Homo sapiens: one gene and its partner. The protein of the gene in region 2 interacts with the protein of the main gene of each other region in a biochemical or structural test. Each region holds a gene or a part of one and is shown on either strand. Other genes may lie near its edges.

Region 1 (7,953 bases), on a different chromosome or scaffold from region 2:
CCTTCTTTTTAAAAGCAGTTTGGCTGACCTCACTCATCACCTAATGTAGTCCAGAAGCTTTGTTGTAAGCAATAGTCACAGAAGTTTTGGCTGGTTTAAGCAGGAAAAGAACTTATTAAAATTTATTGGGTAACTAGCTCACAGAATCTCAAAATGAACCAAAGGGTCAGGTTGTCTCCAGGAATGACACACGAAATCATGCTGCAGAACTTGTCCAGTGAAGAAACCTCAGCTGGCACTGAGTACACCATGGTTTGCACAACTGACAGTAGCAGTCATTGCAGCTCTAACCTATACCATGGCTGCTGCTGCTGTTGATACTCTTCTCCAGAAAGTATTCTCTGCAGTCCCTTCATTATGGCATCATTAGTCCCCTATTCAAAATTTAGGATGGCTGCATCTCATTGATGTTGTGTAGGTCACCTGCCCAAGCTGTTAGCTGCAAGAAAGGCTGAGAAAGTAGACTCTTAATTTGTAAGGTGAAGGATTCTCAAATCCAGGGAGGTAAGTTGTTTATGACAAGTGCTCTCTATGGCAATGTTTCTTCACCTTCAGTGTGCACATGAGCCATTTGGAGATCTTGTTAAAATGCAGATTCTGATTCAGTAGGTTTAGGGTGGGGCCTGAGATTCTACAGCACTCACGTGATGTGAAGCTGCTGATCTGAGGATCACACTTTGAGTAGCAAGGCTCTATAGCACCGATTTTCAAATATGGCTGCATACTGGAGTAACTAGAGAAACATTTATATATATATATATATATATATATATACACACACACACACACACACACTGACTTATGAGCCTTGCCCTCAGCTGATTTAATTGGTTTGGGGCGAGGCATGGGCATATAAATTTTTTAAAGTTCCCCACATGATTCTAATGTACTCAGATACCTTTCACTGCAGGCTCCAACTTTTTGTCACTTTGCAAGGTTATTTTTTATTTTTTTGAGACAGAGTCTCACTGTGTCACCCAGGCTGGAATGCAGTGGGGTGATCTTGGCTCACTACAACCTCCACCTCCCACGCTCAAATGATCCTCCCACCTCAGCCTCCTGAGAAGCAGGGACCACAGGTGCACACTGCCACACCCAGCTAATTTTTTGTATTTTTGGTAGAGACGGGGTTTCACCACATTGCCCAGACTGGTCTCAAACTCCTGAACTCAAGTGATCCATCGGCCTCAGCCTCCCAAAGTGTGGGGATTACAAGCATGAGCTAACATGCTGACCTGCAAGGTTACTTCTTTTCTCCAGCTTCTAGGACCTCCAATTTCCCTGTCTTGCTTGGTTTCTCCCCTTGTAATATGATTACTCTCATTTATTAGGCAGAACAATTTGAAACTCTACTCTTTAGTCCCTTGGGCCTAAGTTTGCATATCTAAAGCTCTATAGAGTTCTGCTAATCCAGTGTTTCCCAAAACTATGTTACTCGCTGCCCTGGGAGTATGTGGTATGAAGTGATGCATAAACAAACATTGTTTTAAATTCTAATCATTCTGTATTTATTTTAATGTCATTGTTAAAAAAATGTAGCTAAAACAGTAAGTCTGATCTTGCAAATATTGTTGTTTAGGACAAGAAGTTAATTTTTAAAACAGGTAAATAATAATAGAGACTCAGGACAGATATAACAAAAATCTTGAAAATGATTTGCAGAAGTGAAGTTCAAGTGCCTATACAAACATAGCCTTCTTTCCAAAGCCGTAGGCTTTAGGAGCACAGAAGAACTGGCAGAGGTGTTCAAAGACACCAGCGTTTTTTTCTTCTCCCCCCATATAGGAAGCAATATAGAGATTTATTTCTGAACTGATACGAATTATGCCACTAATCTTAACACATTGAAATGGATACAGTCAGTTTTGATCTTAGATAAAATTCTTTCTATTAAGCGATTTCAAGAAAACAGCACCAACCTTTGAAAAATTCATGATCTAAAGAAAAGTAAATTATAAGAATAACTTATGAAATATAAAATACAAATAATGTTTAATCCCTTAACCAGCTAATCTTTAACAAGAAAACGGGTGAAACTGTTCAGAATTATTAAGAGCTAATACACAAATCCAGAAAGTCTTAAAACTCCTAAGCAGGAGAAATTTTTTAAAACTCCACATCTACTTACATCATTGTGAAAATTCAGAACACCAAAGAAAAATTGGTCTTAAACATCAAAAAGACTGACAGCAGATTTCTCAGTAGCAATAGAAAATAGAAGATAACAGAGTAATATGCTCAATATTCTGAGGGGGGAAAAAATACTTGTAAACCTAAAATTATATATTCAGTAGAATTATCATGAAACAGCAGGGAAAAATCAAAATATTTCAGGTGGAAAAAAACGCAAGGGTTTACCACATCACACTCTCATTCAAGGAAATTCTAAAGAATTTGCTACAGGCACAAGGAAAATGATTCAGAAGGAAGATCTGAGATATGCAAAGAAATGGTAAGCAAAATGTTGTTACATATGTGGGTGTGTCTAAAAAACGACGTCTAATTTATATGATGAAACCAGGATAGAACTAAAATAGTGAATAACTTATAAACTGAGAGAGGGGAGGGTGTGTAGAGCTAAGACATCCTAAAGGCCTTTGCATTATTCAAGAAGAAAGTAAAGCTATTTATTAGCTTTATATTTTAAGTTTACATTTTAAAATAGTAATACAAATCACTTAAAAATACGGAGTGCATTGGCTCACGCCTGTAATCCCGGCACTTTGGGTGGCTGAGGCGGGCGGATCACGAGGTCAGGAGATTGAGACCATCCTAGCTAACACGGTGAAACCCCATCTCTACTAAAAATACAAAAACAAAATTAGCCGGGCTTGGTGGCAGGCGCCTATAGTCCCAGCTACTCGGGAGACTGAGGCAGGAGAATGGCATGAACCCAGGAGGCGGGGCTTGCAGTGAGCCGAGATTGCGCCACTGCACTCCAGCCTGGGCAACAGAGCGAGACTCTGTCTCAAAATATATATATATATATAATTAATATAATATAATTAATATAATATAATTAATAATTAATATAATATAATTAATAATTAATAATTAATATAATACATATACACACACATAGAGAGAGAGAGAGAGAGAGCCAGAGCGTGAGCATTACTCCAAATAAGTTGAGGAAAAAAACTGAGAAAAAGAAAAAAAAACCACGTATACACAATGCAAAAGAAGCTGCTTCTGTTAGTTTTTGACATTTTAACTTTCTTTTTCGTATGCCATTCTTATTCAAGGTAAGTAGTATTGTATAATTTTTTATTGTGAGCTTTTCATTAAAGGGTCATTTTCTTATGAGAATCACTTTCAGCCTAGGTTGCAGAAGCATTCATTCAAGTCGGTTTTATGTTTGCTTCTGCCAGGCATTCTAGATGCCCCATGTCTAGGATCTCTTAAGGCAGGAGAGAGGGTGATGGTGTAGGAGGATCCATTTCTTGGCTTGGGGATTCCAATAATATATTATAGATTTAAACTCCAAACGTTGATGAAATGCAGGTCTAGGGTTTTGAAATTTAATCAGAGTTAAATACATATTTTCTTCATCCAGAGATGGGACAAGCCTCCTCATCTGCTCGCCATGGGTGTTTCACATTTTCCCTACTCCATCCTTTTCCTAAGGATTTTAGGGACAATGGCGTTTTGCAGAGTACTCAGTTCCAGCTCCCACCCTGAGCCCTTACCTCCTACCACTAAACATCCAGATCTCAAGTTACAGAGAGTAACAACACTTTGCCCACACCTAGGATGACCAATCCTTCTGGTTTCCTTAGGGACGTAGGAATTTCTCAGTGCTAAAATCATGTAAGTCCTGGGCAAACTAGTATGACTGGCTGCCCTACAGCCCAGCCCCCATATCCCGGGCAGGAGAAGAATCAGTTGAATAAGTCATTGCTCTGGTTTTCAGTTTATTTTTGGTACTTGGAATTTCCCTTCTTTTCTTATGGGTTTAGCTGCATATTGAAAATAAAACGTTTTATTTTAATCCCGCATTACTAGGTGTTAGTAATGAGATACTGCTCACGTTATAGAAGTCCACCGTTTTGCCAGCTCAAAAAGTAACATTTTAATGCTTTCCGTCAGTACAGAAGTGAAGTTTGTGGATAAAGGTCATAGCTACTTAGCCCTGTGTGTATAGCTAAGGTGCTGCAGTGGTTCCCGAAGTTACGTGATGGGCTCCACCAACTGGCCCACAGCTTGCTCCTGCTCTACGCCCGTATTCTGACCTTAAGAATGTTCTAGAATTCTCTAGGCAGGCCTAGCGCCTTCCTGTAAGGCCTGGAAGGTGAATTCTCCCATTAAAATGTAAGATCCCTGAGCAAACACATGTTCTGTTATTCTGTTCACTCCTGCATCTGCTGTACCTGGTAATCACAGGCACTCAGTAACTATTTCTTGAAAGAACAAACATCCTGAATGTCAAACTGGCATTTCCTCCCATCCAACCCCTTCTATCTCAAACTTGACAGAAAGGAGTGCAAGTTTCTGGCCTGTTGATGTCTCCTTCTGTTTTCCACAGACTTGCTTCGATTTATTTCTGTAGGCATTTAAAAAAGATTTTGGGGTGAGTGTGAAGCTAAAAGTGATGGCGCTAACCCTGTGCCTTAGAGAAGCCATTTGGAAACTGCAGCCTAGACACATTAGATTATCATTTTTGTAAACTATACCATACATTTCAGTATGCATACTTATTTTAGGGGTGTTTTGGGGGTGATGTGTGTGTCTGTGGGTCTATGTGAGCGCGGCGCCTTCCTGGGACTGAGGCACCGGACCTGCGCACACGCGCTGCGTACCCTACGCCCCCGCCGCGTGGGCGCCGTCGTCCCCCGCAGCCCCCCCACGCAGGGGGCGGGGCGCTGCCACCCATTGGCTGAGGCCGATACCACGCGCCCCGATACCCGGCGCAGGAGCCACCTCCCTGAGCCCCGCGGACCACGCCTCAGTCCGCCTGCGCTCCTCAGCCTGACGGTCCGCCTTTCGGGGCTCCTCAGCCTTGTCACCCGCTCTTGGTTTTCCTTTTCTCTTCATCTTTGGCTCCTTTGACCACTCGAAGCCGCGCAGCGGGTTCCAGCGGACCTCACAGCAGCCCCAGAAGTGGTGCGCCAAGCACAGCCTCTGCTCCTCCTGGAGCCGGTCGGGAACTGCTGCCTGCCGCCATCATGGTGAGTTGAGGGAGAGGCCCGAGGGGCAAGGCTGGCGGAGTCTTCACTCGTGGGTGAAACTCGGCTCTGCAGGGTCGGAAAGTGAAGTCATCCTCGGCTTTCCTGTTTGGGGGGCACCTGCCTGGACGCACCACAGCCATGGCCCACAGAGTTGGGAGAGGCGGCCTGGCAGTGGCGCGGCCTACACAGAGAGGCAGGCGCGGGACGCCAAGGGCGGCAAGGTGGGGGTGGGCCCCGAGGACGCGCTGCCTCGCCGGCCACGTGCAAGGGCCACGGCCTTCTTGAGGCACCCATTTCCCGGTTCGGGTTCTCTACTGGCAGAGGTTTGGGGTGCGGGTTCCCCACCCCCGACTGCCCCACCCCGCCCCCACTCCCACGCGCTCCCCCACTCACGCGCCTCCGCCCCTCCCCCACTCCCACGCGCCTCCGCCCCGCCAGCCTCATTTCTGGCGCGCTCTCCCCGTGGCTCCGCAAGATGGCGGCGGGCCTGCTGAGGGACTTGCCTTCTTAAACTTCGAGGGCCGGAGCTTCCTTAGGAAGTGGTTCCCTCCTGGTCCCTGTACTTGGTGGGGTGGGCGGGGTTCGTGGGGGCCTCAGCGTGGGGTGTGGGGCGTCCTGAAGGCATGGCCCTGTAGCTGAGGGGGCTGGGCCGGAAGTGCCTCTGGTCCCCTCGCGCCTGTCAGCTGCGGGGGACTTGCTGATGGCGGCTCCCTCGTGTGGCGGCGACAGAAAAGCTCGCCTGACGCCATCTTTGCCGCACGAGGTTGGTTTCAGCAGTTACCATTAAGAATTTTAGAATTTTTAAATTCTGGGTACGGTTTTTTCCCTCTCGATAAACCAGGATCCTTTGACAAAATGTCCATTTGGTAGATAGCGTTGGGTGTGCGTTTTTGTGAGTTTGGTAAATGCCTAGCGTTGCTTCAGCGCCACCACAAGATGCAGCTCTGAACACGCAGACCAACCACTGAGTCACGAACGCGCGTATTACATGCTGTGTGTGTGTCTGCATTGATAATTCTCAGTCTCTTCAGGGAGGAAATTTATACACAGTTTATATTACCATGTATAAACATTAAAATAAAAATAAACACCTATTATGTGTAATTGTGCAACATATAGTTATCCATGCTAATAAAAAGTAATCACCTTGAGTTGTAAGTAATTATTTATTATAACACTTTTCATTTTTAGAGTTAAATCCGAATTGTTTCATTGGATTATTTTTCTGATTATAAAAGTATCATATTTACTCATTTGAAAACAATCGCTGTAAGAAAATAGCAATCCATCTTAATCCCAACACTTATAACCGTTAAATTTTGGTACATGTATGACCTTCTAGATTATTTTTATGCATGTATTGCATATAGATGGGCCAACTTTTACAAGAGTTACACCGTGCTGCATAATACTATTTTACAACTTGCATCTTTCAATTGATGTGGGCATTGTTCTGAAGATAATTTTAATTTTCAGTATATGTTAAAAATTATACCATTATTTTACCGAATTCGCTTATGATGAATACTTTTTCAATATTAAAACAATACTATCATGGGCTGGGCGCGGTGGCTCACGCCTGTAATCAATCTCTTTAGGAGGCTGAGGCGGGTGGATCACTTGAGGTCAGGAGTTCGAGACCAGCCTGGCTAATACGGCGAAACCCCATCGCTACTAAAAACAGAAAAATTTGCCAGGCGTGGTGGTGCGCACTTGTAATCCCAGCTACTCGGGAGGCTGAGGCAGGAGAATCACTTGAACCTGTGAGGCAGGTTGCAGTGAGCTGAGATCATGCCACTGCACTCCAGCCTAGGCAACAAAGAGGGGAGGCTCAGTCTCAAAAAAAAAAAAATGCTATGAATATCCTTGTGTAAATATCTTGGCATGCTTGTATTATTAATTCCTTGAGATGAATTGCTGTAAGTGGAATTGCTGGGTGAAAGCGCTTTACCCCTTTGGTAACAATTTTAAGTTACACCCCTCATTAGTATAGTGATGAGTATCCTCGCCTATCAAATTATGATACATCTTTTCCAAGCTACTCTTGGTGTAAAGAATGTATCAGTATTTTCCCACTGATGGTGTGTAGAGTGATCTCTTTTCCACACCCTTTCCAATGAAAGGTATTAGGATTTTTTGAATTGTCAACCTAATAGCTGGAAAATATTTTACTATGTTGATGTGCACTTTTAAAAATCATCAATGAAGTTGATCGATCATTAGCTTTTTAAACTTCCTTTTTATTTTTATTTGTATTGATTCATAAAGACTGTATTAATGTTCACCTTTGTCATACATAGTGGAAAAAAATACATAGTAGTAATAAGGAGGTGCCCTTACCTTATTCCTAATTTCAATGGAGATGACTCTAGTATTTCACTTTAAGCTTAATGATAGGGTAGAATTAGATTGATAGAAAATAAGATGTCTCTATTTCTGTTTTACTTGGATATTTAGATAATTTAAAAATGAATGCTGTATTTTGTCAAATGCTTTTTCAGTGGTGAGTTAAAGTAACAATATCCTGTGAAGTATTCTTGCATTTCCAATATAAACTATATTCTTTATATACTGCTGGAATTTTGCATTTGTGTTGAGGGCAGGGATGGCTCATCTTGATGAGGCTTTGTTACTTATATGCTGTTAGCTTTGTAAAATGCGTTGAGAAATACTTTTTTCCTCTTTGAAAATTGAAGAAAAGTGTTTGAATTTTTTAATCTCCTCTTCTGTGTTTTCTGTCTTTATTTCTGGTGTCTGATGTGTATGTGCACCTCTCTCTGACACA
Region 2 (7,020 bases):
CTTCAGCTTGAGAGGCCCCACAGTAGGCTGCTCCTTCCGGGGGCCGTTGCCTGTTCCCACCCCCCACGGCCCTTCTCTGCCGCGCTCGTTCACGCCTCACGCCCGTGCTGCGCTGTCCCCTGCTGTGTGGTGCCTTGTCACGCACCCTGTGCCTCTGGCGCGGGCAGCCCATCTTCAGCCCGGTCTCAGCTCTTCCCATGTCCATCTTTGTTCTGTGAGGTCTTGGGCAGCTGTCTGCCGGGCACTTCCATCTGGGGAGGGGCTGGTGCCGCCTGGGCCCCGCCTCGGGAGGACGGTGTGCTTTGCGGTGTCACGCTCCACCTAGCCGGGGAGGCCTGGAGAGCCCGGCGCACTCCTGCGCCTAGAGGAGGAGACCCGCCCCGTTAGCCGGGGGCCGCGCCCACCCCAGACCCACTAAACTTCGTTTATACTGCCACTCTTGTGTTTGGGAAATGCTAAATTTTTTTTGCCTTTAAAATTTTCTGTTTTGATCCCATGGTGCATCTCGCTCTTGCTGCTGGCAGCAGAGTCTGACCTGCTGGAACCCGTTGTGGCCTGTATCTTTGTGCATTGTTTCTCTACCTGTATAGAACATGCATAGATGTCTACGATATGACCTCTTCTAGGACTCCTTGGGCTTACCCAACGGTGTTGCGTAAGCCTAGCGAGGCACCAGCTATGATAGATACTGTATCTGTTAACGCTTTAGAACGATATATGGCTGCTGTCAGCACTAGCTGCAAAGCAAATTGCAAGCCAAGGGGGAGAATCCTGGGTTTCAGAGAAGCATACACACATCCACGGTGCACACCCCTGACTAAGATGGCGCATTCCACGCGGGCCCCCGGCCTGCAGGGTTCACTGGCAATCTCCCCACAGGCGAGAGCCAGAATATTCAAGCACGGGCCTCTGACCCTCCCCTGGGGGGCGCTTTGTCTGCCAGTAGCGATGGAGGCCCTCACCGTTCCCCTGTCTCCGCTGCTGTTTTATAAGATGTGCTCCTTGTTCCAAATCTTTGTGACACGGAGCCCCAGCCCGGGGTGTCTGGGGCGGAGGCTTGACTCAGGCCTCAGTCAGCAGAGCCGTCACCGGGAGTGCGGACGTCACCGTCTGTCCACTCCGTGTGCAGTCGAGTGGTGGCTCCTGGGGAGGGAGGCAGCTGCCCCAGGGGCCCGCAGCGCCCCACACACAGCTTAGCTGAAACCCAAGGTCGATCCCTCGGCCCGTCCCTAATACTGTTCATCATCCTGTTTTGTGTCACAACACCCTGCTACCTTGATTCACTCTTCGTCGTTGGCTAGGTTTTGGATTTATTACTTTCGAGGACGAACAATCAGTGGACCAGGCTGTCAACATGCATTTTCACGACATCATGGGCAAAAAAGTGTGTAGTTGTAGTTTTATTTTACCTTAAGACCAAACCAAGTCTTAGGCAACTTAGGGGTTTCACTGGAAAGGAACATTCCTTCACGGAAAGGGTCGGGCGAGTTCGTCCTGTGAACCTTTGCTGCGTGAGGTGGGCCTGGGTCTGTAGACGTGAGGAGGGTCCCATCCTTCCCCAGCACCCTTCCTGCGGGGTGGGGATCTCTCAGCTTTGCTCCTGGAGCCCCTCCCTCTGGGTGACCTGGGACTGGGCGGGTAGGGGGCTGGGGCTGGGAGGCTGTGGCGGTGTTGGGGCTGGCTCCAGTGAAACCGCAGCGTTGCCTCAGGCTTGGTTTCCACGACCACTCCTTCAGATGTCTGCAAATCCCCATTGTCTGACACTGACCTGTAATGTGATCAGCAAGGGACCTTTGAGAGCCGAGGTTCCGCTTAAAATGGAAAGCACAGTGGAAACATCATGAAGGACTGGTTGTTTGAATTGGGTCACTTACTGTGGAACTCCGGCACCAGCCACATGCTCTCGGTAGTACTCAGCCACCATGCAGTCAAGTGACCTCTGGTTGTGTCATCTTCATACTGTGTTACCCCCGGAGGTGAGAGGGACAGGAGGCCACCCCCCCAACCCCCAGGCCAGCCCTTGGAAGGCATGTGTCAGAAAGGGGTCCCTAAATCCTTGTTTTACCTGGACCCTTGGAGGTTCTTGAGAAGTGGACTCTGAAATAAATAACTGGTAGAAATTCTACAGTGTGGAATTTCTTGCAGTTAGCAAAAGCTTAGGGGTCCAGGTTTTTGCAGGATTCCTGTCTTGGTCCTTTCAAACCAAGGAGCTCTGCTGGCTCTGCCAGGCCGCCTCACATGCCCAGTGGGATTCTGACCCGGCCTCCTTGGTGCGGCAGCTTCTCCCGTTAACGGAAGAAGACGCTTAGCCCCTCTGACAGGGCCATGGTTGTTTTTTCAATTAAAATGTCCTGGAGGGAGCATCGTGCTCATTATCTCCTGCCCCTGCCCTCTACCCCAGCCAGAGGTCTTGATAGCAGAACTTTTTTAAAAACAGTAGCATGTGTAGTTATTTTTGTATACACGTGGCTTAGATTGGGTTGCAGACTTCATTAATTCCATTTGAACCCAACTAAAACAGGAGACACAATCCTTGTTCTGACATCGAGTGCAGCTTGTGGTTTAAAATGAGCCTGCCGGCTGCATGGGTGCGCGACAGTACAAGCAGGGCTTCAAGGAGTCTGCGCCCAGTGTTTTAAGGGACTACGACACTGACAATTTGGGGAAAGCGTGGTCTTGATATACGGGGCAGAAAGAGCTCTGTACAGTGCACACACCTGCTGCCGTCCCTGGGCAGCCCCTGGGTCCCCCCAGCCATGACTGTTCTGCGCGAGCTCCTGAGCTGGGCGACCTCAGTGTGGGTCTCGCCTTCCAAGCCAGACAGTCGTTGGAGTCCAGCTTGCCCGGCGCCGGCCTTCACTGGTTGGCTGGAGCGGCACTTGGCGTCGCCGCCGGCCCCTCATGGGGGTTTTCCGTTTGTGGAGTGTTTGGTACCGCGTGGTAGTTAACCCTCCATGCCAGGCGACTGCATTGCTGCATTCAGGTAGGAAAGGGTGAAAGAATTTTTTTTTGTTTTTGTTTTTTTAAAGTACAAGGACCGCTCTGCTTTGTAAGCAGGAACCGCAGTCCCCTGAGGAGGGTGTGTGAAGACTCGCTCATTTGAGTTCTTTGAAATGGGTCCCTTGGTCCTGCTGTCACATTGCCTTGAGCTAACGGATCCTGTTCCCATCATAGGCCGGTCCTTGGGGCATTGGGCAGGTGGGGGCTTTGTGCCTCTGTGGCTGCTGCTGTCTGTTCTCTAACAGGCAGAACTGAGGGATTCTGAACTCAGGATGTGCAGCTCTCCAGACTGAGACCCCAAGGCTGACTCCAGGTGGATCCATTGTCTCTTTATTCTCATTACGATTTATCAGAAAAGTGAGACAAATTCAGGATTCTCAAATGCTGAGGCAGCCCCGGAATTGGGGGGATCTTTCTGTTGTTAGTCCACCCATATTTTCAAGCAGGCATTAAAGGAAGGTCAGCCACTGCGCCTAGAATAAGTAGGTCAGGCCTGCTCCATCCATTGTCCCCGGCCCCGCACCCTCCTCCTGAGAAGACTGTGGCTCCTGACACGTCTAGAGAGGAAGGGCCCCGGGCTGCTGAGCGAACACAGTATGAAGATTGCTTACTGATCCAAATGTCCATTTTATTGCATGTTTGTTACTTTTTTTGTTAGATGTAATGTAAGATTCTCTTATCACATCCATTCCCTCTGACATTAGTTTTGAGTTAATTGAGATTCTTTAAGCGTTAGCCTGGGGAAGGTAAGTCTTTATCTTCCATTAGACATTTTAAATTTAAAAATCTAAGTAAAACACCAGCCGTGTTTCTCAGGTATGAGTTAAAAGCACAGGTGGGCGGGCTCCAAGCAGTCCAGAGGGCGATGAGGATGCCGATTGCTGGGAAGATCCTGGTCCCTTTTTGTCCCCATGTTTTCAAGAGGAAGGAGGACGCTGCCATTTTACTTGAGTGAAAGACCCTTCGTCACGCACGAAACCCCCGAGGGCTCTGGGCTCGGTCCTGCTGCCCCGCAGTGGGCGGGCTCTGTGTGTCTTACGGTTGCATCTGTTGTACCTGAGAAACATTTTTTAAACAAAAAAATTCAACACAAAAGAATTTTTTAAGAAAAAAATGCTACTGGCCTAAATAAGGTTTATAGTTAAGTATTTAGTCTTAAGTTGTAAGATGCTAAGTGTAGTCATAAGTTACCCGAGGGTGTGTCTAAAGGGAAGGGGGTGCTGGGACCCGCAGCCTCGCCCTAAACCAGAGCTCGGTTTGTTTAGGTGGAAGTTAAACGAGCTGAGCCTCGGGACAGCAAGAGCCAAGCGCCGGGACAGCCAGGTGCCAGCCAGTGGGGGAGCCGGGTTGTGCCCAACGCTGCCAATGGCTGGGCAGGCCAGCCCCCGCCCACGTGGCAGCAAGGATATGGCCCGCAAGGTAAGGCTGATGCAGAGGTGCCCACGGGAATGTCCCCCTTCTCGGACTTGGCCCGCGCGCCCTGGGCTGTGCCGTCGCTGCGGCCTCCCCACCTCTGCTGTGCATGCACAGAGCCGCGGTTCACAGTGTCCTTGAGCCCCCGCGAGGTGCCGGCTGACAGCCAGCTCCCGGGCAGCACCCGCAGCCTCCTCAGTAGCGGGGTGGCCACGGCTTAGGTGCCCGTCCGGGGCCTGGGACTCATTGTCACCGGGAAGAGCTGCAGTGAGCGTCTGCACCTCGCGACCGTGTGCCACGGCAGGTCTGAGCACGAAACCCTGAGAGGGCTGGCATTGCCAAGCTGAGCTCAGAATCGGGGTGCTGCCCCTGGGGGGCTTGAGGAGCCGGCAGGCTTTGGATCCTTGCCACCTGCCGTTCCCTCTGCAGTGCCGTGGGCCCTCTGTAGTTAGGCCCACGTTGTGGGCCGTCCTTGGAGCTTCCAGCAGCCACGGAACCCCTGGGCTTGGCTGCAGCCCGACCCGAGTTGTGGGTCAGGGTTCCAGATGTACGTCGTCCGGGTCCCGAGACTGTGGCTTCCCTGCACCTCGTCTAAAACCTTTTTCTCTGGAGCCTCCCTTGTTGGAAACTCGGAGGTGCTGTGGGGACTGTCCCTGCCCTCTCGAGGCTTAGAAGTCTCAGGTTTCTCTGGGGTCCTCAGGTGGAGCCGGGAGGTCACCCGTGCCCCAGTCAGCAGACACAGTGCCCGCCACCTGGCAGGGCACAGAGGAGAGTGGCTTTAAGGCCTGTTCTACAAGGGGTGGGGAGTGCTTCTCTGCTCAGGGTTCAGAGGGCTCTGCCCTCAGGACGAACAGGCTCTAAGCACAGGAGGCTCCGGGGTTGGTCCCAGCCCTTGACGTCCATGCTCTGCGGCTCCTTCTCTGCGTCGGACAGCTGGTGGACACGGCGCCAACCTCCTCTTCTGTTCTCTTATCTAGGAATGTGGGTGCCGGCAGGACAGGCGATTGGTAAGTCCTTGTTTATAGAGCAAAGGCGGGGACAGAAGCCACATGGCAGGCTGACTCGCCAGGTGTCCTGGGGCAGCCGGCAAAGCCTGGTTCCCGTGTCCTGAGTGCTGGAGAGGAAGAGAGGGTGAGGGGCCTGCTAGGGCCCCTGGCAGGCCTGGGTCTAACTGTGGCCAGTCTGTGTTGTCCAGCGCTCTCTGTCCATCACCCCCGTACTGTGTGTTTCAGGTGGCTATGGACCGCCCCCTGCAGGAAGAGGAGCCCCCCCGCCACCCCCACCGTTCACCTCCTACATCGTGTCCACCCCTCCTGGAGGCTTTCCCCCTCCCCAGGGCTTCCCTCAGGGCTACGGTGCCCCGCCACAGTTCAGTAAGTCTAGGGGGCCTTGTGGGAGGGCCTCCCGCCTGCTCCGGAGATGCCAGGTGGTGGGCGGGGTGATGGGGAGTCTTGTGTTACACGTCTGGCCTCAGCCACAGGTGGGGTGCCGGCTGGTCAGCAGGTCACCTGCCACCAGGCCCTTCACCTGCAGATGGGCTCCATCGCCTGTGGCCTCGCTGGTTAGGCTAAAGGGCAGCCCGGGCTCCTGCGGGTTGGAGAGCTCATAGCAGGAATGTCTGGGCCCAACCAGTTCTCACAGGCTCCTCAGGAGACAGAGCCTGGACTTCGTGTCTTAGCCTCATACTTCAGGATTAGGGGGGCATTTGTTTAAGGGTGTACAAGCTCTAATTGTTTTTTTTTTTTTTTTGAGATGGAGTTTCACTCTGTAGCCCAGGCTGGAGTGCAGTGGCGCAATCGCGGCTCACTGCAAGCTCCGCCTCCTGGGTTCACACCATTCTCCTGCCTCAGTCTCCCGAGTAGCTGGGACTACAGGCGCTCGCCACCACGCCCGGCTAATTTTTTTGTATTTTTAGTAGAGACGGGGTTTCACCATGTTAGCCAGGGTGGTCTCGATCTCCTGACCTTGTGATCCGCCTGCCTCGGCCTCCCAAAGTGCTGGGATTACAGGCGTGAGTGACTGCGCCCAGCCTCACAGGCTCTAATTCTTGACTAATTTTCCTGTACACGTCACTTGTAATTGAAAAGCTGAGTGTAAGATCAGCCGACACACCCAGAGTTTTATTTTATTTTATTTATTTATTTATGGTTTTTTTTTGAGATGGAGTCTCACTCTGTCGCCCAGGCTAGAGTGCAGTGGCGCCATCTCGGCTTACTGCAAGCTCCACCTCCTGGGTTCACGCCATTCTCCTACCTCAGTCTCCTGAGTAGCTGGGACTACAGGCGCCCACCACCACGCCTGGCTAATTTTTTTGTATTTTTAGTAGAGACAGGGTTTCACCGTGTTAGGCAGGATGGTCTCGATCTCCTGACCTCGTGATTCGCCCGCCTCGGCCTCCCAAAGCGCTGGGATTAGAAGCGTGAGCCACCGCGCCCGGACTATTTTATTTATTTTTTTGAGATGGAGTTTCACTTTTGTTGCCCAGGATTGAGTGCAGTGCCCCGATCTTGGCTCACTACAACCTCTGCCTCCTGGGTTCAAGCGACTCTCCTGCCTCAGTGTCCTGAGTAGCTGGGATTACAGGCGTCTGCCACCACGCCCGGCTAA

Evidence for each region.
Region 1: the proteins of DAZAP1 (region 2) and DAZL form a complex in vitro, tested with the Homo sapiens proteins (one study listed by BioGRID).

The regions. Positions count from the first base shown.
Region 1 is NC_000003.12:16,602,418-16,610,370, reverse strand, and holds the start of DAZL (deleted in azoospermia-like), read left to right. Parts: upstream 1-4,947; 5' UTR 4,948-5,165; coding exon 5,166-5,168; intron 5,169-5,580; exon of another isoform or gene 5,581-5,868; coding exon of another isoform or gene 5,869-5,931; intron 5,932-7,953. UniProt on the Homo sapiens protein: RNA-binding protein, which is essential for gametogenesis in both males and females. Plays a central role during spermatogenesis.
Region 2 is NC_000019.10:1,424,577-1,431,596, forward strand, and holds part of DAZAP1 (DAZ-associated protein 1), read left to right. Parts: intron 1-1,301; coding exon 1,302-1,384; coding exon of another isoform or gene 1,385-1,385; intron 1,386-4,265; coding exon 4,266-4,419; intron 4,420-5,390; coding exon 5,391-5,420; intron 5,421-5,645; coding exon 5,646-5,786; intron 5,787-7,020. UniProt on the Homo sapiens protein: RNA-binding protein, which may be required during spermatogenesis.